2 separate regions of the Homo sapiens genome follow, and region 2 is linked to region 1. Evidence: fine-mapped expression QTL. Tissue or cell type: whole blood. Region 1 holds a variant in brackets; the other region holds the start of a gene. All regions are shown on one strand. Distances are between the middles of the regions.

The links. PIP is the estimated chance that this variant, and not a neighbour inherited with it, causes the effect.
Region 2: ZNF76 starts here. The variant in region 1 is fine-mapped to the expression of ZNF76 in whole blood (INTERVAL, PIP above 0.99).

What each region holds. Positions count from the first base shown.
Region 1 is chr6:35,184,656-35,187,155 of GRCh38, forward strand. No RefSeq gene overlaps it. Among named protein-coding and RNA genes, the nearest start is that of SCUBE3, 28 kb to the right of the region's middle. RefSeq lists silencers at 1-282, 677-971. The variant G/C (reference allele first, on the strand shown) is at 1,133.
Region 2 is chr6:35,258,725-35,261,224 of GRCh38, forward strand. It overlaps ZNF76 (zinc finger protein 76), which reads left to right and starts at 1,011. Exons shown (of 14, transcript NM_003427.5): 1 at 1,011-1,117. It overlaps SCUBE3-AS1 (SCUBE3 antisense RNA 1), which reads right to left and starts at 731. Exons shown (of 4, transcript XR_001744102.2): 1 at 566-731. RefSeq lists silencers at 994-1,113, 1,124-1,443.

The DNA of each region.
Region 1 (2,500 bases):
ATGTCTGCCCTCAAAGGTCCAACAGTCTAAGTGTCCTCAGGCTGAACACCCTGGACTTGTCATTGACTAATCGTTGATTCTTATTTCTCCAGCCAGTCAGCCACCACGACCTGTTGATTTTCTGCATTTAGAACCTCCTGCACCTACCTGTCTTTTTCTCTGCATCATTCTCAGCATGGCACATAACCGGGGGCTTGGCAAGTGTGGGCACGATGCAGAGATGTTGGGAACTATTGTCAGGGATGCCCAGCTGGGCCAGGAGACACCACCAGGGGCCTTCCCTGGGGGTGGTAACAGTTTTCTTTTTTTTTAATCAGTTAGGACTCTTGTTTACCCTTTGTACCCAGCGCTAGCCCAGTGCCTGACACATAGTAAGCACTCAAAAATAATCTGGGGGTTTGATTAATCAATTGATTAATTAACTTGATACACACACACACATGCATGCATAGAGATGGCCTCTCTTTTTGCCGTCCATTCACATACACATTACCTTTCATTACAGAGACACCAGGTTACAAAGAAAACCCTTAAGAGTTTGCTGTTGACTTGAGCCGTGTCACTTGTAAGAAGGACAAAATATGTATGTGGTCAGTTCGAATCCCAGGCCTGAAACTGGAAATAAACTAACCCCTTGTTGAAATCGCACAGGAAACCTGAAGGGAGGTGGGGGAGACGGGTGGCAGGAAAAATGCCTGAGATCTTACACAACTTGTGCAAACAGAATGACAGGGCTAGGCAGCCCTGGGAGTCCAGGAATTAATAGCCCTGCCGAGGCTCCGGGGCTCTGGAGATGGAGCTATTTAAAGTCAAGAAATGTCATTTCCACCCACAGAGCCTGCCCCAGTTGCATTATCTGGAGCCTCTTCAGCCCCGGTGTTCTGGCAGCCTCCTGGCCTGACCTCCCAGTGGCGGGACCACGGGGCTCAAGGCCAACCTGTCATCACTGCTCTGTTGGGAGATTGTGGGGGGGTGGGGGGGGCTGACCTTAGCCTCTCCCAGTTCCTCCTCTTCCTCTTCTCTGCTCAGGCCCAGGACAAGCTGAGTGGACACTCAAGGCCCAGCTCACCCCTCTGCAAAGGCTACTGAGAGTACTAAGGTTGCTGCCCACATACAGGGGCCAGCCAGCCTG[G/C]CCAGCAGGGTAGGTCTGGGGTAGTGGATGGGGAGAGATGGGGTGTGGAGACATAGACCCTTGCCCACCAGAATCATACTCTTGTCCTGCTATATGACCTCAGGCCATTTGCTTAACCTCTCTGGACCCTCATTTCTTTACCTGGACTGGGAAATGAGAGTCTTCCTCTCCTTGCCCTATTTCTGGGGAAGGCCACAGGAGATCAGAGAAGGGATGTCTTTTGAACCTTTAGGAAGAAAAGCACCATAGAAATCCAGGTATTACCTGCAGCTCCTCCTCCCCTCCCTTCCAGGCAAGGTAATCCAGGAATGCTTCCTCCGGAGGCAAGAAGGCAGGAAGCTGGCATTTGAAGTGTCAGTGGGCTGTAGACTGTGTGACAGAGCCATCCAGCCCCATGCTCCCAGGAGCTGAGGTTCACATTCTTGCCAGGCACCTAAGGCAAGAACTCCCTCACATCCTGTCTGCTCTGATCTTACATATCTGTTCTGGCTGATGTTGCTGCAGTTTTGGGGAGGTGGGGGACTTAGAAGCCCAAACAATGTGCCAAACCAAGTTTTGCCCTGCAGGTGTCTAATGCCTGGGGATTGCTGGGCTTTTTTCCTGAAGCTGAGGAGAAAGCACAGTGGTGCTAAATGAGTTTCCAAGAGAGGTGTAATGAAATACCAGGGACACCCCAGCCCAAAGTCTTCCTGAACTCATTGCTGCTGCCACCCAAGGGGTAAAAGGGAGCTAGGAAATGTCTTTTTTTTTGTCTTTAGGAAACAGCAATGGAAATGCAGCCTTCTACTCTCTTAAGCCCCCTTCTCTTGTCTTATCTTAGAACTTGCGTGAAAGCTATGGATATTTTCCTCATTTAATTTTTTAATTTAATTATTCTAGACACACTAAAAGGTATGTATCAGAATAGTCTAGATTATGCTGCAGTAAAAACCCCAATATCTCAGTGGCTTAACACACACTTCTGCTTCTGCTACTTACTGCTTCTCACTTCTGCTACATGCCCTTTGTGGATGAGCAGGGGACTCTGACCATTGAAATCACTTAGGGACCCAGGCTGGTGGAACAGCCACCATCTGAAGCACTGTCAGAAGCAAAAGAGATGCCGGGCACAGTGGCTCATGCCTGTAATCCCAGCACTTTGGGAAGCCAAGGCAGGAGGATCACTTGAGGCCAAGTTCAAGACCAGCTTAGGCAACATAGCAGGACCCTGTCTCTAAAAAAATTTTTTTTAATTAGCCGGGTGTGGTGGTGTGCACCTGTAGTCTCGGCTACTCAGGAGGCTGAGGCAAGAGGATCACTTGAGCCCAGGACTTGGAGGCTGCAGTGAGCTGTAATTGTGCCACTGCACTCCAGTCTGGTGACAGGGTA
Region 2 (2,500 bases), 74 kb after region 1:
CACCCAGTTCCTCTCCTAAAAGGCAATCTTTACCAGTTCCTTCTCTAACGCCCCTCCTTTTTAATTTGATTTTTTACCGAAAGCTCGCTCCCTTTTAATTTTCCCTCAGGTTTCTGAAAATTTCCCAATCGCAGCCCCTCCCAGCAGGGAAATAGTAAAGGGGCTTGGTTTTTATGTTCAACCCAAAGCAAGCCTACAAAAGGGAGTAGTCGGTTTCGAGCCTGACGGTGGAGCTGACGCGGGAATGAGAGAGAACCTGAGAAGACCGCCAGGGCGCCCTCCCTGCGGAGGCGAGTCCCTCACCGCCCCTCTACATCGTCCTTTTCAATAAGGAGCTCTTAATACCTGCAACTGCTTCCTTCAAGGGGTGGCTGGAAGATCAGTAGGCAAGGCCTGCGGACTGCGCACCTTAAAGCGCTTCGGGACCGTAAGACAGTGAGTGCTGAGCGCGCGGCCGGGAAGAAGCCTGGAGGCTCTGAGCTCGGAGGACAGAGACCGAAGCCCCAGGGCCTGCGTCCCTCACAACCTGCGCCTCCTGTCCTCCCGCGCTACTCCCGAAGCGCACCTTCTCGCCCGCAGGCCGCAGAAGTGATGACGCAAAGCCCTCGGGGCCTCCGCCACCTCCTCACGCTTCTGCTGGACCGAATCCTTGGAATGGACAGGTAGCGGTTCCCGATTGCTATAGCGACGACCCGGCTCCGAGCCGCGCCCAGGCCCTGACCCGGGCGTCGTGACGTCAGCACGCCTTCCCTGGGCGCTCAGCCTCGCTGGCCATGCGTCACCCCGGCCTTGGTGGGGGCGGGGCTCCGAAGAGCTCGGTTCAGATCCCGGCCGCCTGGGCTCCAGGAGCCCCGGAACCAGGATAAGTTGGATGGCTGCCGCGGCGAAGCGGGGGGCGGGGTGGACCGTGCCCGGTATTTTCTATACGGGTTCCGGGGCCCGGTAGAGGCGCGCCAAGAGGAAAGGAAAGTGCGGCGGCCCTGGAACCTGGATATCGCGCGAGGCAAGCTGCGCGCGGGCGGGCGGGCTATGGCGCAGGCGGGTTGTGGGGCCGGCGCTGGTGGCGGGGCCCGGTGCATGGCGGTCTGTCGGCGGAGTCGCCCTCGGGGGCTGTCAGGTTGGTGGCTGCGGGAGGAGTGGGCCAACCATGCCCAGGGCGGGAGGCCGGGCGGGCGCAGGACCCCGGGAAGGTCCCGAGCCCGGCGTGCCCACCTCCCTCCGGCCCTAGCAGGGCGGCCTGGCCGCTGGACCGCGGCCGGGCCCCCTCCCCCACCCAGGGTCCCTGCCCCTCTTTTCCGCCTTGCGGCTCCTCCCCCGTGACTCCCAAACCTCACCCCGTGACGGCGCCCGCCTCCACCCTTGTGACCCCACACCCCACCCACTGACCCCAAGACCTCACCAGGTAACCGTTGGTTATTATTCATTGGCTGCTAACCCAGGAATTTCCCCAGCACTTCTCAGAGACCCACCAACCAGTGACTCCCTCAGTTTTAATCCGGTGACTCACATGACCCTGAGATCCCCACACTCCTCCTTAGTGACCCCCAAACCTGGGTAACCCTCCTGGCCCAGTAACCCCCCCGATTCTACCTTGTGTTCCCCACAAACTCGGTGACTCCCCTCAAAACTCTGCTGGCGACTCCTAAGCCCTACTCCAATAGTTTTCCACGCACTCACCTTGTACACAACCCTCAGTATCTTTATCCTGTAGCCGTATGACCCTCGTTCCACGTCTGCCTTTATCCTAAAATCACCCCCACTGGCATCTCTCTCTGCGATCCCAGCCCTTCAGTGTCAATCAGCACATGACTTACAAGCGTCCAGCACCTTTCTGGTGCTAAGGAGGATATAGAGATTAATATGAAGTAGTAATAATTGGAGGCATCAGAGAATTCTGGATCAATCCAGAATCCAGTCAATCCAGTGTGTGGTCCCAGCTCTGTCACTGCTGTGCTTTAGGGACCTGTGAGAAGTCCCCTCCTCAGTCTGGACCTCAGTTTCTCATCATGACTGTGATGAGGTTGGGTTAGATGATCTTTGAGTTTCCTTCCGTCTGTGAAATTGTGAAATTATGCAGTTCTCAGTCAAGATAATAATTTTTTGCAATCATTTTTGTACCCCACCCTGGAAATTTCCTCTTGTAACCTCATCCCAGGATCTGCTTGCATCATGAACCTTACTCCCTCATTCCCGGATCACCCTCTTCACTCTTCATAGTGCATACCCATTTCCCTTGATCAGGCCCCATCAGTTAACATGTTTGCAAAGCAGTATAGCAGAGTGCTTCATTTGGGGGCATTGAGTTCATAACAAACCTAGGTTCCAGACTGATTCTGGCCCTTCAGCTATGGGACTTTTGGTATATTATTTAGCCTGTCTTAACTTCAGTCTCCACCTCTGCGAAGGGAGAAAATAGTAGTGCCTGACATAACATATGTAAAGCACCGGGCACCATGCCTGGCTCATGGGAACCCTTAGCATAAGCTGTTGTTAGAAATGA